Linked DNA regions of Homo sapiens: all the other regions are linked to region 1. Evidence: fine-mapped expression QTL. A gene starts in region 1. Each other region holds a variant in brackets. All regions are shown on one strand. Distances are between the middles of the regions. Region 1 holds the start of TSPAN33 (tetraspanin 33). Region 2 has its middle 32 kb from the start of LEP. Region 3 has its middle 23 kb from the start of TSPAN33.

Region 1 (8,184 bases):
AATTTTTGTATGTTTAATAGAGACAGGGTTTCACCATGTTGGTCAGGTTGATCTCGACTCCTGACCTCGTGATCCACCCACCTCAACCTCCCAAAGTGCTGGGATTACAGGTTTGAGCCACCACGCCTGGTCTACATGCTTTTTGAAGGAAATCACCAGCCTGGCCAACTGGGATCCCCACAGTCATCAGCCACACGAGCTGAGCCATCACTGCTGCTGACCCGTCTTGCCTGGAGTCTCCTGCCTTGCTCTACCCAGAACTCCCCTTTCCTAAAGCTCCTCGTCTACACCGTGTCACTGCTTCTCTCTTCACATACCTTCTTGCCAATGTTAGCTCCAGCAACATGACCCTCTTTCTTTACAGAGATACCATTCAAATATTTTAATTATTTTCATAATCATATGTAATAATATTAAATATATTTTTAAGCTAAAAATTGCTACATGTCCCGTCACAACAACACAGCTGATTTTACTTTTATATTTTTTCATCTCTGTTGAAATTGGCCCATATTTCTTACTGTGAATATGTTTATATTGTTAAAATCTTACATACTATTACATAAGTTTTTTGGGTTCCATTTTTTGTTTGTTTGTTTTCTTTTGTTTTTTTTGTGTGTGTTTTTGGAGACAGAATTTCTGTCACCCTGGCTGGAGTGCAGTGGTGCAATCTTGGCTCACTGCAACCTCCACCTCCTGGGTTCAAGCAGTTCTTGTGCTTCGGCCTCCCAAGTAGTTGAGATTACAGGTGCACACCACCACGCCCAGCGAAGTTTTGTATTTTTAGTAGGGATAGAGTTTTGCCATGTTGGCCAGGCTGGTCTCAAACTCCTGGCCTCAAGTCAGCTGCCCACCTTGGCCTCCCAAAGTGCTGGGATTACAGGCATGAGCCACCACTTCTGCTTTGAATTCCATTTTAAATGGCCACATTATATATTCCACATAACTGAAATACCTTTTCCATTGAATTCCATTTTAAATGGCCACATTATGTATTCCAAAGAACTGAATACCTTTTCCAAGGACTTGAAATAAGTTGAAACTATTCACTGATTGTCAGATACTCTGTATACTTTATTCTACAACCTGATTTTTGCACCTCATATGTCATGGACCTTTTTGCAAGTCAGTACATATGTTTTCTATGTTATTTTAAATGGCTGCGTAGCATTCTATAGTAAAGATACATTTTTCCAATTTTTAAATTCTTTTTGATTTTTCAATTTGTGTAATTTTTTCATTTTGAATCATTAATACACTTTATGCTGCAAAGAAAAAAAAACAAAAAAAAAACAAAGAATAAAATGGCACACAGTGAAAAGTCTCTCTCCTCTCTTTTCAGTTCTCATCACCATCCCAGTATGTAACCTCCTTTCTTAATGTCTTACGTTTCCTTCCAGAGTTTATTTAGGCAGAGGGAAGCAAATATAAATGTTATTCCTTATTTTTGTTTTCTCTCTTTCTCTTTAACCAGAATGTGATATATTGTATCCACTGTCCCACTTGTTGCTTTTTTTTTTTTTTTTTTTTTGAGACGGAGTCTTGCTCTGCCGCCCAGGCTGGAGTGCAGTGGTGCGATCTCGGCTCACTGCAACCTTCGCCTCCCAGGTTCATGCCATTCTCCTTCCTCAGCCTCCCGAGTAGCTGGGACTACAGGTGCCCGCCACCACACCCGGCTAATTTTTTTGTATTTTTAGTAGAGACAGGGTTTCACCGTGTTAGCCAGGATGGTCTTGATCTCCTGACCTCGTGATCTGGCTGCCTCGGCCTCCCAAAGTGCTGGGATTACAGGCATGAGCCACCCCGGCCTCATTTTGCTTTTTAAACGTAATGAGTTAACTTGGAGATCGTTCCAACTCAGTACAGAGAGAGTTTCCTAATTCTTTGTTCTATAGCTGCATGGCTTCCTACTTTGTGATGCCGTCCGTGACTTCCACATGAGGGACATTGTGGTCATCACTTTGAAGGCTAATCCCATCTCTACCTGTTAATTCCAAAACCTCATTCCAGCCATTATCCACCTTAATCCCTCTTGACTGTTTTGTTTTGTTTTGTTTTGTTTTGTTTCCTACGAACATGTTAGGTCTCTTATATGCTAACAGAGAACTTTCCCTTCACTCTGAAGTCCCTTAAGGCTCCCATAACCTTCAAAGCCAGACAGAGATGTCCACAGTTTCGTTCACAGCTTCCATTTCACCACCCATTCCTTCCTTGACACTGTGATATTCCTTCTTCTTCCCGTCTCAATTAAAAATGATCTCTTGGCTGGGCACAGTGGCTCATGCCTGTAATCCCAGCACTTTGGGAGGCCCATGCAGGTGGATCACCTAAGGTCAGGAGTTCAGACCATCCTGGCCAGCATGGTGAGACCCCATCTCTACTAAAAATACAAAAACTAGCCAGGCATGGTGGCGGGCGCCTGTAATCCCAGCTACTTGGGAGACTGAGGCAGGAGAATCGCTTGAACCAGGGAGGCGGAGGTTGCAGTGAGCTGAGATCAGGCCACTGCACTCCAGCCTGGGCGACAGAGTGAGACTCCGTTTCAAAAAAATAAAACTGATTTCTGGAAGATCATCTAATAGAAACATTCAGCATCTTGGTCTATTTCTCTATCCTCCCCGCACTAACATCTGAAAATGGCACCTACCTATTCACTCATTAACCTCTTGGAAAATGACTTCTGCCCACCCTACCTGCTTTATACTAAAACTGATCTCCAGTGTCACTTAACCTGTTAAGGGCCAGTAATCTCCCAGTAACCTGGCTGTGACTGCCTTCTTTAACCTCCACTCTTGGTGCTCCTGTTATGCCTGCTTGTCACCACAGCCTAGCCCTAGAGATTCTATCTTTCCAATGCCTTCCCTTCTATCCTCTCCTAACCATCTATTATTCTGTCTATTACTCCTAAATCAGTTCCTGATTTCTGATTATCTGGATGATGAGCAGCATGCTTCTAACAAATCTTTCTCTCTCCAGCCTCTTTCCCACTCCAACTGAAAACCATGGGTTTTCCATCATCCTTTTCTCCAAAACTCTTATTTCCAAGTCAATTAAGCACTAACTCCCCAATCTGATATTCAATTACTTCCGCAGTTTTAACACAATTCCACATGTAACGGCATCGGTCAGCATTATGTCCCACTGCTATTCCAAGCATACCCTGTGCTCCAGCCACAGCAGTCTGCTTATTTTGCACGAAACACATGGCGTGCTTTTGCACCTCCAGGCTTTGGTTCACCCCCTTTTTTTTTAATCCACCTGGATTATGTTTCCCCTCCGTCTCTACTATTCTAAATCCCATCCTCCCCTAATTTCACTTGCCACGCTATCTTCACTAACCTTCTACCAAACGTATTATAATTATTTGTGCGGTTATCATATTTCCACACTGGATTCTTAATTCTGCTAAAACGAAATACTGTAATGCCTTTGATGAGCCTTCCATGTGCCAGCCATGTGCTAAGTGAGCTACATGCATTATCTCATTTAATCCTCAAATCGCCATCTAGGTCAGGACTCTCCCATTTAACATTAAACAAACTGAGGCTCCGAGAGATTAAGTAGCTTGCAGCTTTCACGCAGCTAATTATGGTGGAATCAGATTCCCTCCCCGAGGTTCAACTTGTATTAGTTAGGGTAGCCAGCATAATATATTCGCCAGCTACGCTGCACTCAACCTGTGTGTGCCGGATCAGCATGTTAAAAACGGTGTCTGCAAGTAGACCAAGGGAAGAGGGGCTGCGGGGGCGGGAATTGAGACAGCAATGAATTAGGATGGCGGGATTGGCGGTGATGTTTCCAAATTTCCACTGTTGGGTTGTAGAGCTTCTGAAATAAGCATTTAAAATGTATAGTTACTAAACAAGATTGCATCTACCCTTGGTCTAATTGTTATGTGTAGGTTAGTTTTGTCTCCCTGATTTTATTGTCATCCCCCAGGGATTGTTTCTGTTCTCCCGCGTTCCCAGAGCTTTCGGCGCATTGCTCAACACACGGTGTGCGTACTTGTTGATTTTAATGTATGTGTGTTTGCATATGTGCACAGCAGCTGGGCGGAGGACGTGGGTGTGGGATGCACTGTGCATTCCTTCTCCTCACTCTTGTTCCTTTGAGCAGCTGCAGCCTGGATGCTTTCCCTTAGGGGTAGGGGAGAGGCAGAACCGCTGACCCTTTAACAAGTTATCCCTCACAGAACAGGTGTCTCCCCCGACTCTCGGTGGAGAGGGATGGCTGGATACTTAGTGACATCAGCCACGAGCCAATGGGAAGTCGGGCTCCAGCCGTCGCGCCAATGAGCGGCCGGGGGCGGGCCGGGTTTCCTGGGCGCCTGGCTGGCCGGGCTGGTCCTGCGGCCGCGGGTGAGTCTCGTCCGCTCGCGCTGCCCACCGCGGCTCCAGCAGCTCCAGGCGCGGTTCCCCGGCCCGCGCCGCTCCCGGCCCCCCGGCTCGGGCGCCTCCCGCCGCAGCGCAGGCTCCCCCGCCGGCCGGGCTCCTGCGCGGCGCGGCTCGGCTCATGCCCCCGGGCGCGGGGCACACAGGCCGGCCGGCAGCCGCTGGGAAATAGGCCCCCGGGGGCGGTGGCGGCGGCGGGGCCATGGCGCGGAGACCCCGGGCGCCGGCCGCCTCCGGGGAGGAGTTCTCCTTCGTCAGCCCGCTGGTGAAATACCTGCTCTTCTTCTTCAACATGCTCTTCTGGGTGAGTCTCGGGGTCGAGGGCACCTGGGCGGCGGGGTCCCCCCGCGGGGTGGAAGGGTGGCCCGGGGTGCCCCACGCGCGGGAGCCGCACTGCCGAGTTTTCTGGGCTGACGGCACTTTGGGGGAATTTATCCTGGGGAGGGACACCCCGGGGACGCCGCGTCTGCAGGGGGCGTTGTAGGGAGGAGGGTATGCCAGGGAATCAGTAAAGACTGATGGGTATTCTCGGGGCGTCGGAGGAGGGTCTGTGTTAGGCTAGAAATGTGGGTTTGAGGGAGCCTGTTGGCCCAAGGCGGACCCACTGACACATTCATGATGGGGGTCGGGGGTGGCGGCTGACTTTCAGGCCTGGGGGCCTGGAGGCCCGGCTGGCAAAGAAAGAAGAGGAAGGAAAAACCCAAACCTCTCTCTCCACCACCTCAGAGAGGATGGGTTACTGGCATCATCTCTTCCTTTTGCAGGCCTCATCTACCCCCACCTCCACCCCCCCAAAGTCTAGGAAGAATGGCCTCCAGGTGCAGATGTCTTTCCCATCCCAGCACTGCCCCAAACTTTGTCCCCTCCCTGCCACCCTTCTCAGGACCAGACTTCACCCCTGGAGCCTGGCAATCACCAGTGTCTTTAAACAGGACCCCGTGTTGGGCCGGAGGGCCAGGGGTCCTTTCAGAATCTTCTGCTTGGGGTGGAAAAAGTATTGGGCTGGGACTCCGGACACCTGGATTCCCATCCCACTCTGCCGTTCATTGTTGACTTGACCGACCTAAGCATGTATGTTCATGTCTGCAGGCCTTGACTCCCTCCCCCACAAATCCAACCCAGTGTGATCAGGGGTGGCAGAAAGACTGCTGAAGCTGAGAATTGAGCTGAACCAGATCATGCAATGCCAGCTCGACCCTGTTTCCTGGCTAGAGAGTCCTGGAGGTCCTGGGGTGTGAGAACATAGGGACATCCTTCCCCCATTCACCTCCTCTTCTGGCTCCTACCACACCAGAGCTGCTGCTTCTGGAGCCCACCATCCTTGCCCACTTCAGCTGGAGACCTAAAGTTCAGACTTGCAGGAGGGAAGAATTGAGTCTAAAATATGTTTCCTAGGGGAGGGAGCAGAACAGACATCTAAGCCATTTGCTGGAAAGGTTTCACAGGGCCCGTGGGGTGAGGTGCAGACACAAAGCCCATAAGTGCTGGCCTGTTGGGACAAATGAGAGAAATCCCATAGGGTGGTGATGACAGCGCACTCAGCCATCCTACTCCTGGGGAAAATGAAACTTGTGCTCCTATCAAATGCTCAGTTGTAAAACTGGAAAAAAATTTTAGAAGACATCTTGTCCAGCATCTGTGTTTATGTCTATAAAATGTAGAAAACTAAAGCACAGAGATGTTAAATGTTTTGTCCAAGGTCCAACAGCTGGTTAGCAGGCTTGGTCTGGTGACCTTTCTACTGAACCACAGTGCCGCTGGGGGAAGTCCTCAGCACAGATGGCTGCTGCTATAGCTGGGGTATGGGCAGTATTAGTAGTTAACCAGTCAACCCAAGTTCCCATAGTCTAGGTTCTGCTTCAGCTGGAGGTTAGGGAAAAACACAAGAAAATCCCTTACCACTCTACCAGTGCTGGGGGATGTACTAAGAGACTCCCCACTTAGGGGCAAGTATCAGTGAAGTCTCTGTGCTCACTGAGTGTGCCAGGCCAGTGACGTGACATCCTCGGAGCCAGCACTAGCATTTCAGGGACTTTAGGTCGTCACTCTGACTTCCTTTATCTGCCGAGACTGTCTCCCTTGGAGCCATTGGTACCTCACCCTTGTCTGTGCTCGCCAGTGACAACAGCTGGGTGCATCTGTTACACTTGTGTTCCTGGTCATTTTTTTTTTCTCGAGCTTCCCTACCCCCTACCTCCACCCTACCCCCCTTTTATCGGACAAACGACTTTGAGAGATCTCAGCCAGGAGAGAGTTTGGCTCCACAGACCCATTTACCTTGGTAAAAATGCTTCATTCAAGGTCAGAAGACGTGGGTGGCCAAGCTAGCACCACCCCAAATTAGAATAGAGCCCCTTCTTGGCCCTACAGTAGACTCATAAAAAATCAGAGGCTCTAGAAATAGCACACTGAAAGACAAGAGGCTCAGCATCTTTTTGGCACCAACTTACTGTGTGACCCTAAGCCAATGTATCTGTCTCTCTGACCTTAATCTTTCTCCTCTAAAGGAGAAACAATTTCTGCCTCAGTGAACTATTTAAGGATGAATGAATCATTTTGGGGACTGTTTTCTTTCTTCAAGACCTAGAGCTGGATCTAAGGATGAATCTCCCTGTGTCCTGATTGCCCTTCCTAGGGGACAGTACTTTTCAGGTGTTATTGAATGTCCCTTCTCCCCCAAACCCAGTGCTGCACAGGTATATTCATACAAGAGCAGCTGGAGAGAAAATGCTGCCTCCCCAGATCAGGGGGCCATCTTTCTTCCTAGCTCCTCTTCAGGGACTGGTTCCCATGCTTTCTTTTTTGTAGACTTCCACCATCCTAATCAAATTCTGCTCTTCTGCCCAGGAAGCACCTATGGATGAGATGATGGTCAGCCCACACCCTTTGCAGGCAGAGTGCATGCTCTGGCCGGCTTCTGGAGCTGCCGCATGGCAGTGGTTATTGTGTCTGTGCCTGGAACCCACTAGGAAGGTGTCCGGCATCCTCTGGGCTCTGAATAGTGGTGCTGGTGGTGATGGTGGCTACGTCTGCTGTTGCTCTAGAAGCCCTGACTCTTGGGGCATTTGGAGTCTGACTCAGAAAACTAATGAATTTTGGGGGACTGGGACCAGTTCCTACTGTTCATGTTTCAAATCTCACTTCCCCTTTGACCTGGGAGTTCTGATTTTCTTCCCAGAATCATGTTGCTGGGTTACTGACTGTGGGGATTCCATGGCCTGGAGTAGCTGCTCTAAGATCCTAGATGTTGCATTTAAATCAGTTAGGGTGGCTACAGAGCAGCTGCCTCTCCTCACCTCCCTCTGCAGGACAGCTCCGTGCAGATATTGGGGTGGTGCCTGCTTTCTCAGCTTGGCCATGTGTTGTCAGGAATATTCAGTGCCGCCCACCTCCTTCCTCGCTGGTCCTTTTCCCACTCAGGGCAGCAGTTGGCTGGCTTTTGAGTCAGGCAGAGCCCAGAAGCTCAGACCTCCAGCCCCTGTGTCTCAGCCCAGGCTTCCCTAGCAGCCATGCCTCAGGGCTCCCATGGCACCTTCTGTATTCTTCTATTGTCACATCCCTTACCTGTGCTGCAATTGTGTTTACTTCTCCGTCTCCCCCTCTAGACTTCGGGCTCTCGAGGGTGGGCACGGCCCTATTCACTTCTGGATCCCCAGTGCCCAGCTGTGTTTGGCATAAATTGGGTGCTTACTGAATGTTTATTGGATGGTGAGTGAGAGAGCAAACCCCACAGGGTAGAGGCTTGATGCCCATCCTCCCTTCCTCATGGACACTGGCCTGTCAAGATGCAGCT
Region 2 (8,184 bases), 870 kb before region 1:
AATAGAGCTACCATATGAGATCTGCACTCCTATGTTTACTGTAGCACTGCTCACAATAGCCAAGATTTGGAAGCAACTAAGTGTCCACCAATAGATAAATGGGGCTGGGTACGGTGGCTCACAACCATAATCCTAGCACTTTGGGAGGCCAAGGGAGGTGGATGGCTTGAACCCAGGAGTTTGAGATCAGCCTGGGCAACATGGTGAAACCCTGTCTCTACAAAGAAATACAAAAATTAGATAGGTGTCATGGCATGTGCCTATAGTCCCAGCTCCTTGGGAGGCTGAGGTAGGAGGATCAATTGAGCCCAGGAGGTTGAGGCTGCAGTGAGCCATGATTGCTCCACTGTACTCCAGCCTAGGCAACATAGTGAGACCCTGTCTCAAAAAAAAAAAAATAGACGAATGGATAAAGAAAATGTAGTACATATATACAATGGAGTACAATTCAGTCATAAAAAAGATGAGATCCTGTAATTTGCGACAACGTGGATGGAGCTGGAGATCATTATGTTAACTGAAATAAGCCAGGCACAGAAAGACAAACTTCATATGTTCACGCTTATCTGTGGGTGGTAAAAATTAAAACAGTTGAACCCATAGAGATAGAGAATAGAAGGATGGTTACCAGAGACTGGAAAGGGTAGTGGGGGTGGGGGGAGGGGTGATGGTTAATAGGTACAAAAAAAATTGAAAGAATGAATGAGACCTAGTATTTGCTAGCATAAAAGGGAGACTATAGTAAAAATTAATTTAATTGTACATTTTAAAATAATTAATGCTTGAGGGAATGAATAGCTTATTTACCTTGATGTGATTAGTACACATTTGCATGCCTGTATCAAAATATCTCATGTAACCCATAAATATGTACCTCGACTGTGTACCCACAAAAATTAAAAATTAAAAAAAAATTAAGGCCAGGCACGGTGGCTCACGCCTGTAATCCTAGCACTTTGGAAGGCCGAGGCGGGTGGATCACTTGAGGTCAGGAGTTCGAGACCAGCCTGGCCAACATGGTGAAACCCCGTCTCTACCAAAACTATTTAAAAAATAGCTGGCTGTGGTGGCGTGTGCCTGTGATCCCAGCTACTCGAGAGGCTGAGGCAGAAGAATCGCCTGAACCCAGGAGGCAGAGGTTGCAGTGAGCTGAGATCGTGCCACTACACTCCAGCCTGAACGACAGACTCCGTCTCAAAAAAAAAAGAAAGAAAGAAAGAAAAAAAGAAAAAATTAAAAAAGAAGACAAGGGACCCTTGTGGGGTGTGGGGAGGGAGCATCTGTGACCCACATATTCTGTGGCCAAAGGGGCCAAGTATCTGAAAAGGCAGCCTCAGGACCATTTAAAATAGGCTTGATGGAACCAGGTACCCCCAGGGCCTGGACAGGGGAGGCCGTGGGTCTCCAATACGCGCTTGCCAGTCCTTTAAGCTGATTGAACCACGGTTTGTGCCCAGCGCCCGGTGGCTACCCAATAAACGTTGGCCCGTGCTCCTCTCGCCAAACTCAGCCACCACATGGGTCGGGGCCGCGGTGTCTCAAGCCCTTCGTAGGCTTCCACCGTCAGGCGGCGCTCGGCCTAGAGGCCCAGCCTAGTCCCCCACGCCTGGATGTGGAAAGCGCCCTCCACCTTCTCCGGGGACCCCTCTGCCTCACCGGGAAACCGCTAGGGGTGCTGGGCAGAGGCAGTGTGTTCCCGCTCTGCCTCGCGGCTCTTCACGCGGCTGAAAGGGGTGGGGGTTGCAAAAAGCAAGGTCCGGGGCAAGGACGCCGTCTTGGTCAAGGCTTTCCACGCCGGGCTGGGGAGAAGAGCGCAGCCACGTGGGAGAGTTAACAAGGGCCCCCCCACTGGGATGCCAGCCACCAGGAGTCTAATCCTGATGCTGTGTGGCCTGGGCACACGTTTTCCCCATTCTGGGCCTGTTTCCTCAGCTGAAAAATCGCATCCTAGACCCATTTGCTTAGGTCGATTCTGCATCAACAATTCCACGATTCGGTAGATAGGTGTATCCGGTAGGGTGACACCCAGTCAGACCCCCCAGCAGCCACAATCCTTTGCCTCTGAGCCAACATAACACGTTTGGAACACACGTTCTATTTGCGGTGCCAGCCGAGCTCTGAGGCCACAGCTGGGTCCAGCGGGAGACAGGAGAGCACAGGGTTAACAGCTGGGCCGGGAGGCCGGGAGGGCGACGCCTGGGTTCTAGTGCCAGCGCCCTGTGACCGTGGGCAAATTACTCAATCCCTCCCTGCGCGGGGCATGGTACCGTGCTGGCCCCGCGGGGCTGGTGGTGGGAGGGGAATGAAACGATGCGCGCCAGGTCCGCGCGCGGGCCCGGCGGAGTCCTCTCTCCCCACGCAGGAGGACTGCCTGGGCGGGCGTGGGAGGGCTGGGAACCCCGGTACCATCCCGGCTGTCCGCCCAGTGTCTCCCAGAAAAGGGGAGTCGGAATCTCTCTCACAAGGAGTCGAGTCGGAGGAGACTCGAGTCCTCTGGAAACCGCTGAGCTGCTCGGGTGCCTTTTCTTTTTGTCCTGGAAGGAATCTATCAGTACAGGAAATGTCTTCACGATCCCCGTCCCCGACTCTTCACAGAGCCCACCCTGTGCCCCTTTCTGACCCGGTCCGGGAGGGCTGGGGCCTCTCCCCAGGTGCCATCTCCGGCCTGGGGAGCCACAAACTGCCGCGGTCGGTGTCCGCAGGCGCAGAGCTGCGCCCTGACTCGCCCGGCTGGGTCTGGATGATCCCACCCGCTCAGCAAATTTCCCTTTTTTATTGTTGGTTTTGTCTGTTGGCTTTTACCCCCTTTCCTTTTCCTGCTTCCCCTGAGTCAGCAATGCTGAGCCCAGCGAAGCACAGGGGGCCAAAGGGAGAGACACACGGAGCGCCCCGGGGTCCCCCAGCCTCGGCGGCCCCCGAACCCCCCAGCCAGCCTAGAGCTGCCCTTCTGGGCCTCTTTTCTGCCAAGACCACTGAATGCCCATCCCCGAGGGCCCAGTCGAAGGGGATTGGAGAGGGTCAGGGTGGGAGGCGGGGCGATGGACAGCGGCGCCAGTGGTCCCGTGAGCGCTCCTGCTGCCCGCAGGTCCGGTACCCTCAGTTAACTGTACCTGGATGACTTCGGCCCCTTTAACAAGCACTTTCCATTTAACTCATTTCATCATCTCAATTCTGTGAGTGGGTCCTGTTATTATCCCACACTGTTATTGTCAGCCACCAAGTCAAGCAATAACAATAACATAACAATGAAAGCCCAGCAAACCAGTAATTTTTCATCTGAGCATTAAGATTTGAAGAGAATATTTGGAAGGTTCCTGCCCACAAAAATATCACCCTACACTCAGGTCTAAATATCTACCAGTGGTGATTTCTTCATTTGAATTAATTGCTGTTCTTTGCCAGGCTTGGGAAGACAAGTCTAGCTGTCTGGACTTTACATGCGTGTGCATGGGAGTGTGTGCTATGCAATAATACTTACACTAAAAATGCATCTGTTGTTTATCAGGGGCATATTTACACTAAAAAACGATCCGTGGATAATCTGAAATTCAGATTTAACTGGGTGTCCTGTCTTTTTATTTGCTAAATATGGCAATGTTAGCCCTGTTGGCCCTGCACTAGGTCTCATCCAACTTGGATCTAGATTGACCTAAGCAATGAAGTTGGATTCCTAGGACCTCACCTCCCTAGAAATTCCCTCTCCAGAACAACTACAGAGCACCTAGCTGTGGAGGAGCCCCAGGGGGCCCTCGTTTCTACCCCATTCTGCAGTGAAAAGAACTTGAGTCTAGAGACCTGTATTCTGCCCTGAGCTGAATACGCTCCCAGGGATCTCAGAAAATGCCAGATACGTGGAGCCTCCATTTCCTCATCTGTAACATAGGGATAATCACACCCAGCTCACGCTATTATAGTGAGAGTTAGACTAGAGAAGGCAAATGCCCGAAGAGTGAATTAGGGACAAAACTGCAGATCTTCAACATTTCTGCTCCCTCACCTGCACTGACTGATTCAGGCTCCAGTAGGGCAGCATTTACACCTTAGTAGAAACACCCCCCAGTGAGCATTTGATAGAGTCTTGAATGACAATGGTCAAGATCCAAATGGGCCACAGACTGAGCCTTCTGGAAATAAAGCCCCCAGCTTTGCTTTCTGATCCGCTGCTGACTCAGAGAGCAGATGCCTCTCCCTCTACGGGAGGTATTGGCGTTGACTGCATCCTGCAAACCTCCCGAGTCTTCTGCCTTGTGGGACTCAGGAAGTCCTCAGCCCAGACTCTAGGATCCCGTACTCTCCTCCTTGGGCCCCAGCATGTGTCTCTCTTGGAGCACACTTCCTCCTGGGACACCACCACGAGGCCCCAGCAGTGCCAGCATGGGTGGGAAAGACAGAAACTCTGCACTGTAAGGCCAGGCACGGTGGCTCACACCTGTTATCCCAGCACTTTGGGAGGCCGAGGTGGATGGATCACTTGAGGTCAGGAGTTCGAGACCAGCCTGGCCAACATGATGAAACCCCATCTCTACAAAAATACAAAAATTAGCCAGGTGTGGTGGCATGCACCTGTAATCCCAGCCACATGGGAGGCTGAGGCATGAAAATCGCTTGAACCCAGGAGGCGGAGGTTACAGTGAGCCGAGATCATACCACTGTACTCCAGCCTGGGTGATATAGTGAGACTGTGTCTCAAAAAAAAAAAAAAGAAAGAAAGAAACTCTGCAACTCTGCACTATAGTGAACCTCCCTGGTACTGCAGAAGCACAGGTGGAGTCAGGGTGCTCTTACTGAAAACCCCAAAGCTACAGCCTGTCTCCACTGACTCTTTCCTGAGACACATATTGGACACTTCCTTCTCCTCCAGCACTGGGGATGGGAA[T/G]ACAAGAACAAAAGCAGCCTGGGCGACCTTCAGGAGCTCAGAAGGCCTTTCAAGGGCTTCAGTCTCTTAAGCTTTGCCTCTCCTAAACAAAAACTCCACAGGGCTATGGGCTGGCAGCTTCCCACTCTCCACTGCCCCCCACTATTCCAGATTCTCTGAGATACAGGGTCTTGTCCAAAGCCCTTCCCTACATTCCCCTATGATCCCATCCTGATGTCAGAGAGGAAAAAGACAGGGAAAGGATGAGAGGCTACACAGTGAGGCTTCGAGGTGCCTGTGCTGGATTCCCAGTGGACTCTGCCCAAGCTCCAGCAGATCTTGGTTTACTTTTTTATGCAGCACATTAGTTGGCCTTTCATGTGCCAGGCCTGGGTGAGGCCCTAGGGTACAGGAGTGAACAGAACGTAGGGAGTTTACAGTCCAGTAGGAGAGCAGCTTAGATCAATAGCAACCGTAGAATGTGATGAGGGCTATTCTGGGAGAAGTGAGCCTGCTATGGCATAAAGCAGGGGTCCCAGCCAAGCCTGAGGGTCAGGGATCTGGGTCAGAAAAGTGCCCCCCAAAGAAGGGATAATCAGACCTGAGGGCTGAGCAGGAGTTCTCCAGGTAGAGGGATGGAGGGGGCTTGCTGGGGATAGACGAACAGTGTTTTTAAAGTTCCCAGGCAAGAGAGAGGCCCTGGAACCTTGAAAACAGTATGTTCAGTGGAAGAAGCCAGAAACAAAGGGCCACATGCTATGTGATTCCATCTGTAGACAGTGTTCAGGATGAGTAAATCCATAGAGACAGAAAGCGGGTTGGTATTTGCCAGGGTTGGGAGAGGGAATGGGCAATAACTGCTAATAGGCAGAAGTTCTTTTTGGGGTGATAAAAATGCTGTGGAATGAGACAGCAGTGACTGTTGCACAATCTTGTGAATATATCAAGACCCATTGAATTTTGTACTTTAAAATGGTGAATTGTATGGTATATGAATTATATCTCAATTTTTTAAAAAGAGAGGCCCTGAGTTCCACTGAGCAACTGAATGAAGCGCAGCTCCCTTGGCATGAAAGGGGGAGTTGGGCCAGGCCAGATCACACAAGGTCCACTTCAAATGGACTTTGTGCTGAGGGCTGGGGGAACCAGTAGAAGGCTCTAAGCTAAGAGGTGACATGGTCAGATTTGCACTTTAGGAAGGTCACTGTGGCTGAAGTGTGGAGAATGCACTGGGTGGGGGATAGATAGACCAGTTAGGAGGCTGCTGCCCCAGTCCAGATGAGGGATCCTGGTGACCAGAACCAGTGGTAGCAGGGAAGGAGAAAAGAAGGCTTCAAGGGAGAGGCAGGAGCAGAATGGACAGCTTTGGTGATTGCTGGGTGCAGGGGTAGGGTGAGAAGAGTGGCTGAGGCAAATGGGACTGGGGACCACTGATTGTGGGAGGAGTGGGGAAGAGGGGCTGAGCTCCATGGGCTTGGGCCAGGTAGAGTTTGAGGCACCTGCAAGAGCCCCAAGGGGACTTGAGGAGGAGGTGTTCTGCTCCGGGGGTGGCACTGAGGAGACAGCCTAGATAGGCAGGGAGATCTGGGGGCGAGGCACCAGCAGGCAGGATCACCCTGCCCTGGGAGAGTGTGGGGGAGAGAGGGCCGAGGGCCAGGAAGAGCCCTGGGGAATCCCAAAATGTGAGGAACAAGGAGAGAGGAAGCAGAAACCAGGAACCAATCAGAAGAGAGGGCTACATGGGGGCCCAGAGAGGCAATGTCTTGAGAATATGGCAGTGCCAGCTATGCAGAGCGTCAATGGAGATCACACAGGTGGGATTCGGGGACAGTTCAGTTGCTTGGAGAACCTGAGGAGGACAGCTTCAGCACTGTGGTTGGACTAAAAGGAGACCAAAGTATATTGAGGAGGGAGAGTGGGGGAGGAAGTGGAAACTGGTTCTTGGAACAAGTTACTGAATGGGAGATGTGATGAGGGAGTGGGAAGGAGAGCTTGAGGGGGAGGCAGGGCAGACCTGGAGCATGGGCCTGGGAAGCACATCTGTTTGAATTCTGAGAGCCTGGGCCTGGCCATCATGGTGGCTTATGCCTGTAATCCTAGCACTTTGGGAGGCCAAGGAGGGAGGATCACTTGAGGCCAGGAGTTTGAGACCAGCCTGGGCATACTGAGACCCTGTCTCTATCAAAAATTTAAAAAAGAAAAAAATTAGCCAGGTATGGTGGCAAACACCTGTGGTCCTAGCTACTCAAAAGGCTGAGGCAGGAGGATCGCTTGAGCTGGGGAAGTTGAGGCTTCAGTGAACTATGATCACCCCACTGCACTCCAGCCTGGGTGACAGAGCAAGATCCTGTCTCAAAATAATAAAAAAAATAAAAAGAAAATAAAAAGAATTCTGAGAGCCTGGAGAGCAGGAGGGATAAACATTGGGCTGAGGTGTCTAAGGAAGTGGGGGGGCAGGGGTTCAGAATTCAGAGCACCAGGTGCTCTGGCCTCAGAAGGGAGGAGGGTTGGGGTCTTTTCTTCCAGCAGGAGGGTGAAGGCAAGCACAGACCTGAGGTGGTGGGCGTGCAGGTTTGTAGACTTGGAGATGAGGAAAGGGAATTGTCATGTGGGTACTATTTTGCCACAGAAGCAGGACACAAAGTCAAATGCTGAGGTTGTGGGGAAAACTGGAGGGGCTGACCAAACTTATGTCAGAACCTGCTGAGAGAGCCGTGAACTGGTTGTTAAACATAGCTATTTTTAAAAATTAAATTATAATAGATCCACGCAAATAGGCCCAACTGATTTTGACAAAGGTACAAAGGCAATTCAAGAGAAGAAGGAGAGCTCTTTCTTTCTTTTTCTTTCTTTCTTTCTTTCTTTCCTTCCTTCTTTCCTTCCCTCCTTCTTTCTTTCTTTCTTTCTTTTTTTTTTTTTTTTTTTTTTTTCAGACGGAGTCTCTCTCTGATGCCCAGGCTAGAGTGCAGTGGCGAGATCTCAGCTCACTGCAACCTCCGCCTCCTGGGTTCAAGTGATTCTCCTGCCTCAGCCTCCCAAGTAGCTGGGATTATAGGTGTGCACCACCACACCCGGCTAAATTTTGTATTTTTAGTAGAGATGGGGGTTTCACCATGTTGGCCAGGCTGGTCTCAAACTCCTGACCTCAGGCGATCCACCCACCTCGGCCTCCCAAAGTACTGGGATTACAGGCATGAGCCACTGCGCCTGGCCCTGGGAGAGCTTTTTCAACAAATGTTGGAGCAACTGGACCTCATAAAAATTAAAAAACTTTTGCTCTGTGAAAAATCTAGTTGAGAAGATGAGAAAACAAGCTACAGACTGGGAGA
Region 3 (8,174 bases), 22 kb before region 1:
AGATGGGGTTTCGTCATGTTGGCCAGGCTGGTCTCGAACTCCTGACCTCAAGTGATCCGCCTGCCTCGGCCTCCCAAAGTCCTGGGATTACAGGCATGGGCCACTGTGCCTGGCCCGTTTTAGCTATTTGAAGCTATATATTGTTACATCCAGTCATCCTACAGTGGTATAGAACAGGGGTCCCCAGCCCCTGAGCCATGGTCGCATAACAACGGTCTATGGCCTGTTAGGAACCGGGCCACACAGCAGGAGGTAAGCAACAGGCTACTGAGTGAAGCTTTATCTGTATTTACAGCTGCTCCCCATTGCTCACATTACGGCCTGACCTCCGCCTCCTGTCAGATCAATGGCAGCATTAGATTCTCACAGGAGTGCGAACCCTATTGTGAACTGCACATGCCAGGCTCCTTATGAGAATCTAATGCCTGATGATCTGTCACTGTCTCCCATCACCCCCAGATGGGACTGTCTAGTTGCAGGAAAACAAACTTAGGGCTCCCACTGATTCCACATTATGGTGAGTTGTACGATTATTTCATTACATATTAATATTACGATGTAATAATAATAGCAATAAAGTGCATAATAAATGTAATGCGCTTGAATCATCCTGAAACCATCCCCCACTCCCTGGTCTGTGGAAAAATTGTCTTCCATGAAACCAGTCCCTGGTGCCAAAAATGTTGGGGACCACTGGTATAGAACTCTAGAACTTATTCCTTCTATCTAGCTGTAATTTTGTATCATTTAATAAACATCTCTCTAACTCCCACTTCCCTCTGCCCTTCAAGCCTCTAGTATCCTCTGTTTTACTTTTTACTTTTATGAAGTCAACTTTTCTTAGCTTCCACAAAGGAGTGAGAACATGCAGTATTTAACTTTCTGTTCCTGGCTTAATTCACTTAACATAATGTGCTCCAATTCTATCCGCATTACTTCAAATAACTGGATTTCATTCTTTTTTTAATAGCCGAATAGTGTTCTATTGTGTACGTATACCACATTCTCTTTATCCATTCATCTGTTATTGAACACCTAGGTTGAGTCCATATTTTGGCTATTGTGAATAGTGATGCAATAAACATAGGGGCACAGATGTCTCTTTGATATACTGATTTCTTTCCCTTTGAATAAATGCCCAGTAGTGGGATTGCTGTATCATATGGTAGTTCTATTTGTAGTTTTTTGAGGAACCTCCAACTCTTCTCCATAGTGGCTGTACTAGTTTACATTCCCACCAACAGTGAATAAGAGTTCCATTTTTCCACATCCTCACCAGCATTTGTTATTTTTTTGTGTTTCTGATAATAGCATCCTAACCAGAGTGAGATGATACTTCTTGATGGTTTTGATTTGTGTTTCCCTGATGATTAGTAATATTGAGCATTATTTTATATATTTGTTGACCATCCATTTGTATGTCTTCTTTTGAGAAATATCTGTTCAGATCATTTGCCCTTTTATTTATTTATTTTATTTATTTTTATTTTTTTTGAGACAGGCTTGCTCTGTCACCCAGGCTGGAGTACAGTGGCACGATCACAGCTCACTACAACCTCTGCCTCCCAGGTTGAAGCCATTCTCCTGCCTCAGCCTCCCGAGTAGCTGAGATTACACCCATGTGCCACCACCACACCCGGATAATTTTTTATATTTTTAGTAGAGAGGGGGTTTCACCATGTTGGCCAGGCTGGTCTCCAACTCCTGACCTCAAGTGATCCACCCTCCTGACCTCAAATGATCTGCCTGCCTTGGCCTCCCAAAGTGCTGGGATTACAGGTGTGAGCCACCATGCCTGGCCCATTTGCCCATTTTTTAAATTGAATTATTTGCTTTTTTGCTATTGAAGTGTTTGAATTCCTTGTATGTTCTAGATAATAATCCCTTGTTGGATGAATAGTTTACAAATATTTTCTCTCATTCTGTTGATTGTCTTTTCACTCTATTGATTATTTCCTTTGCTGTGTAGAAGCTTTTTAGTTTGATATAATCCCATTTGTTTATTGTTACTTTTGTTGCCTATGCTTTTGAAGTCTTATAAAATCTTTTCCCAGACCCATGTCCTGAAGCATTTCCCCATGTTTTCTTCTAGTAGTTTTATAGGGTTGGGTCTTACATTTAGGTCTTTGATCCACTTTGAGTTGATTTTTGTATAGGATGAAAGTCAGGAATCTAGTTTCATGCTTTTGCATATGAATATCCAGTTTTGCCTCAACCATTTATTGAAGAGACTATCAATAAGGGTTCTTGGCACCTTTGTCAAAAAACAGTTGGTTATAGATACATGGATTAATTTCTGGGTTCTCTATTGTTCCAGTGTTCTATGTGTTTGTTTTTATGCCAGCGCCATGCTGTTTTGCTTACTACAGCTTTGTAGGATATTTTAAAGTCTGGTAGTGTGATGCCTCCAGCTTTCTTTTTGCTCAAGATTGCTTTGACTATTTAGGGTCTTTTGTGGTTCCATATACATTTTAAGATTTTTTTTCTATTTCTATGAAGAATGTCGTTGGTATTTTGATAGGAATTGCATTAAATCTATAAATTTCTTTGTGTAGTAAGATTTTGTTCTGAATGCTAAAACTGTAGGTATAAATAGGATGGCACTGCTGGCCCAGAGGAAGGCCTGATTAGCCAGGGTGCCCCCTAATAGCTCTGACTTCACTAGTACCCAACCTTCTCTCAGTACTTTGAGGGATTAAGACAAAAATATCACATCATAAGTCTGATGCTGAAACAAGTTTGTTCCTTTAATGAGATAGTTTTTGACAAATTGGATCCAACATCTCCTGTTAAAATGGAAATACATATTTAGAGTCGTGGTAGGGCAGGTAGACAAGTAACAAGCCTGAGTGGCCATCACCACATTGGTATGAATTAATTTAGGAACAAAGAAAAACTTCCTGGGAGGATATGATCTATAATGGGATGGTTGGGGGGGGGGGTTGTTAGTGGTGGTGGTAATGGGTTATTTTAGTTTTGAATGTGTGTGTTGCAGGGAAGGAAAAAGGTTGGTGGAGAGTTCAGAGCCAAAGCCATGCTGAATGACAGGTGGAAGACAGTCTGATGGATCATAGTCACTGTTCTTAAAGAATACATAATTCAGGCTTGCATGAGACAAGATGAACCACTGACATCCTAATTTCTCAAAGTAGTCATTGGAAATGGAAAGAAGAGCCAGGATTTATTGGAGGGTATATTCACACAGAAGGGGTTCATGAAGGTGAGGGACCCTTTCACCTCCCCACTGGGCAGAAAGCACTTGCCAGAAGAAAGGGTTGCAAAAGAAGGTTGAACTCAGCAAGAAAAGTGCCTTGGGTCAGTCTCTGTACTGCTAAATAGGGCCTACCACCCTACCCTGCCAATCCCTACATAGGCCCTGTCTTCAGTAAACACTAGAGTTCGCTTACCTTCCATTCCAAGAACCAATCTGACATCTGCTGTATTAGTCTGTTTTCACACTGCTGATAAAGACATACCCGAGACTGGCTAATTTACAAAAGAAAGAGCTTTAATGGACTTACAGTTCCACATGGCTTGGGAAGCCTCACAATCATGGCGGAAGGCAAGGAGGAGCAAGTCACATCTTACATGGATGGCAGCAGGCACAGAGAGGGCTTGTGCAGGGAAACTCCTATTTTTAAAACCATCAGATCTCATGAGACTTATTCACTATCATGAGAACAGCATGGGAAAGACCTGCCCTCATGATTCAATTATCTCCCACCCAGTCCCTCCCACAACATGTGGGAATTCAAGATGAGATTTGGGTGGGAACACAGCCAAACCACATCATCTGCTGTGCCTCATCCCACAGATAGCAGAGCTTCCTCCTAATCTATCAAGAGTTCAGCATTTAGTGAGTGGTCAGGATCTCACCCTTCATTTAACCAACTAACCACCACCAACCAACCACCACCATCAGAGGTGGGCCTAAGGCAGGCCTTGGGGTCTCTGGGAAGTGGGCCATGCTCAGTCTACATCCCAATGTGCTATGGCTCCTGACACTCTGAGCAGGGGCTCTCCCTTGCACACACCAAAGGAATGACTGGGCTTAAAAAACGTGCCAACTTGCTTATAAATCAGTCTCCTCAGATTCTACAATTCACCGAGCCATAAAACCTCAGAGCTTCAAAGATGCTTAGAAAATATCAAGGCCAGGGTTCCCAGGAAGCCTCAATGCTGCCATTTTACAAAGGAAGAAACTGAAGTGCAGAGAGATTAAGGGGCTTGTCCAGGTCACACAGCTACTTAGTGGTAGATCTGTAACTAGAAAGGTTTCAGTTCACACTCAATGTTCTTTCCTCTAGAATCTAACCTCTGCCCCCTTGTTATTTTTGGCATGAGAGAGGAGGATTATATTTATGTCTCTAGAAAAGCTGTGCTTTTGGATTGAATTCTGATTTTCTCTTCTCAAGTCTCATTGAGAACCACATGAAAAAACTCTGCTGGATTTGAGTTAAAAAAAAAAAAAAAAGAATCTGAAGAAAAAAATAGCAAATCTGGTATCCTAATGAGATAATGAATGCACAAGTACTTTGAAAGAGGTACAGCACTTCAGTGCTTTTCAGATATGAGGTTTTGTCATGCTCTTGAAAGAAATGCATAGGCTTTACTGACATGGGGGCTGGGGCTGGG[G/T]CTGGGGCCCTGGCAGAAATGGGGAAGCACAGGCTGTGGCAAGGGGGGTTTCTCCAGAAGGCTGACTCATTTCTTGGCTGTCCCAAGCTTAGAGAGCCAGATTTCTTAGGGTTGTTTACCACCTTAGTAAGGAACTGGTGGAGGGTTTTTTTCTGGAGTTAAGCACTGCAGGAAGAGCTGCCCACAGTATGGGGGTGGGTCATCTGCTTCTGGACTGCCCAGGCCAACTGTGGTTACCCCAGTTAACTGTGGTGAACTGTCCACATAACCAGCCTTCTGGATCTGCCTTTCAAGGAGTCCCACTGTGCTTCTCCCTGCTGAGGCCGCTGAAAGGGCATAGGCAATTGCTAGAGGTGAAGAAAAACTCTGTAGCTAAGCTATAAAAACAGGCATCCTGAATCTGGCTACATCCTGGTAATCTTGCACATAGGATGAATCCTAAGAAAAGGTGAGTCTTGTTAATGTGCACAGCACACAAGCCAGCGGGATGGCGTGCCAGTCAGCAGATTTTCAGTTTCAAGATAACTGAAAATCCATTTTTATCTGACTTAGACAAAATGAAACAAAACACCAAACCAACAAACAACAACCACACAATTTCACTGATTCGCATAACTGAAAAGTCTAAGGTTAGGGCTTGTTTCAGGCACCACTGATCTTGTGGCTCAAACTATGTCACTGGGACTTGGTTTAACCCTGTCTCAGCTCTACCTTTCCTCAGTGTTACCTTCTCTCTCAGGAGCCCTGGGGTAGCCCCCAGTGGCTGCAGGTCATCTGTAATCCCAGGGGGTCCCAGCAAAAGAGAGAGGGAATCCCTTTCAGTAATGGTCCTCCTCCCCAACTAAATTAGAGGCTTCATTCTGACTGGACCAAGTTAGAGCGCATAACCATCCCTGGGCTCTGATTGGCCAGAACAGAGTCCGGCGTTCCACCTGCCAGGTGGAAGGGTAGATCTCTCCCATGCTCACTGAGCCTGAGACAGGAGGTGGGGTGGCATCCCAAAGGAAATCTAGCATGCTGGTACCAGAACGGGGAATAGGTGCTGGGCTTGGAAAAATAACAGACAAACACTCAGTGCTACCCATTTAAGCATTTGAAATAATTTCACTTCAAAATCAGAGTGGTCGAGTCTCAGACACATGAGATTCTGTCTCAGATTTCTGGTGGCTTGAATGGAGGGTGTACAGAATCATGTCTTGATAAATGTTTAACTTCTAAGATTTGAAGTGCAGATATTGGTCTGGGTATCCCTCCTAGAAATCTTTGCATTTTCTGCATTTTCTTTTTAATATTTTATTTTTATTTTTATTTTTATTTTTTTGAGACAGTGTCTCAGTCACCCAGGCTGGAGTGCAGTAGTGCGATCTTGGCTCACTGCAACCTCCGCCTCCCGGATTCAAGCGATTCTTGTGCTTCAGCATTCGGAGTAGCTGGGACTACAGGTGTGAGCCACCACGGCTGGCTAGTTTTTGTATTTTTAGTAGAGACAGGGTTTTGCCATGTTGCCCAGGCTGGTCTCGAACTCCTGGCCTCAAGTGATCCTCCTGCCTCAGTCTCCCAAAGTGCTGGGATTACAGGCGTGAGCCACTCACTGCACCTAGCCTATATTTGAATTTTAAATAGTGATTCCACACCTTAACCTAACCATAATGGGAATTGGATTAGAGAATGGTGGGAATTTCAGACAAGTTGGTGAGGGTGAGAAGTAAGGGAAGAGAAACGTTATGGAACCTCTCACATAAAAAGTGCACAGTGGCCTACCCCTATATGGATGTGAGACTGCTCCTGATAGGAAATATCCCCAAACCCCTTGTTTGCAGTCCACGGCCCCAGTCTCAACTCCACCAAATCATGATGCTTCCCCTGAGATCATGATTGCGTTGCCCAGTTTCCTCTCTGACCAGACCTGATTCTACAGACAAAAGCCAACCTCCTCACTTCGATTCCCCTGGATCCTTTCCTCCTCTTCACATCTACAGCCGCTCTTCTAACTTCTTACTCCCGTTGCAATTCCAGATATTCCAGAGACAGGATATCTCCAAGGCACTCCAGGGCCCCAAATAACAAACCTTATTTGTTTTCCACCTCACACAATCTGAACTCTTCTGCCTGCCCTTTGAAACCCTTCGCGAACACCTCCAACCTTATTTCTTGCTCCTCCTCAATACAGCCTGTTCTGGTTGGCACAGCCTCACCTCTTACCTTTGCCACGATGCTACTCCTGCTGCGTCACTCAGTTCTGCATGGTGAGTCTCCTCCATCCACTGTGATCTGGAACCACGTCATTGTCAGTGGAGGTTGAATACAACTGGAATTTTTTATGGGATTCTAACAGACCTGTCCCTGATAATGGCGTGCCCCTAATTTCCGTTCTTTACTGACTACTCATTGGCTGTATCACTCTAGTTGCACAAATGATCTCTATCTCCCTCTATGCATGCCTACTAGGTCCAGGGAAGTAATATAGTGTTTGTAACTAGGAGTGGTAAAGATGATGGCTAATTGGAGAGAGTAAGCTCAAGCTAAAAGCATTCAAATTCAATTTTTTTTTTTTTTTTGAGACAAGGTCTAGCTCTCTTGCCCAGGCTGGAGTACAGTGGCATGATCACAGCTCGCTGCAGCTTCAAACTCCTGGACTCAAATGATCCTCCCACCTCAGCCTCCGGAGTAGCTGGGACTGCAGGTGCTCACCACTATGCCCAGCTAATTTTTTTTAAAAAAAAAATTGTGGAGACAGAGGTCTTTCTATGTTGTTCAGGCTGGTCTTGAACTCCTGGGCTCAAGTGATTCTCCCATCTTGGCCTCCCAAAATGCTGGGATTACAGACATGAGCCACCGTGCCCAGCTCAAATTCAAAAATTTTAAGACATTATGGGACAAAGAAAATTCACCTGTCCATCCAAATAATGTAATGTGCAATAAATCTGCAACCACTGCTTAAGCTTGTCTTGAAGTTTTTCTGTTTTGCAGGACTCTTCCTGAGCAGTACATTTTCTTCTCTTCTAACAGAGTTAGAATTTATTGCTTACAACTCTTTCAGAAAATGGCAGTAATTAGAAATGGAGTCTGAGGAGGGGGATTTGCTCAAAATACGAGTATCGTTTCTTTACCATTTTTCTTTAGCAATGTATTCTGTAATCATAAATGAGCTACATGAAGATCTGAGCACAGCCTGGAAATATTGCATGTTTAATATCAGCCTCCTTTCCCTTCTTCAGAATTAAACTCTGGATCCTTCCTAGACTTGGCCAGTTCCAAGTCACGACTTCGTCAGATACACTCTTGCTGTAAGAAGCAGTAAAGTTCAGTGGTTATGATCACAGACCTAGAGCTGGTCTATCTGGGTTTAAAGCCAGACTCTATAGCTTTCTGGATGTGGCTGTCTGTTTAACCTTGGGCAAGCTAGGTGACCTCTGTTTGCCTCAGTTTCCTCATTTGTGAAGTGCGGATAATAATAGTACCTACCTCATGTCATCGTTTTAAGGATTAAATGAATTAACACATTTAAAATATAAGAAGTTTGAAAAGCTCTTGGACTC

Evidence for each region.
Region 2: its variant is fine-mapped to the expression of TSPAN33 in monocytes after LPS (Quach 2016, PIP 0.95).
Region 3: its variant is fine-mapped to the expression of TSPAN33 in whole blood (TOPMed, PIP above 0.99). The same link has a PIP of 0.9 or more in macrophages, monocytes and monocytes after interferon gamma.

What each region holds. Positions count from the first base shown.
Region 1 is chr7:129,140,388-129,148,571 of GRCh38, forward strand. It overlaps TSPAN33 (tetraspanin 33), which reads left to right and starts at 4,320. Exons shown (of 8, transcript NM_178562.5): 1 at 4,320-4,695. The coding sequence starts at 4,594. RefSeq lists a silencer at 4,233-4,442 and an enhancer at 7,305-7,354.
Region 2 is chr7:128,269,413-128,277,596 of GRCh38, forward strand. No RefSeq gene overlaps it. Among named protein-coding and RNA genes, the nearest start is that of LEP, 32 kb to the left of the region's middle. The variant T/G (reference allele first, on the strand shown) is at 4,877.
Region 3 is chr7:129,118,108-129,126,281 of GRCh38, forward strand. It overlaps the pseudogene LOC407835. Among named protein-coding and RNA genes, the nearest start is that of TSPAN33, 23 kb to the right of the region's middle. RefSeq lists enhancers at 4,128-4,297, 4,748-5,017. The variant G/T (reference allele first, on the strand shown) is at 4,636.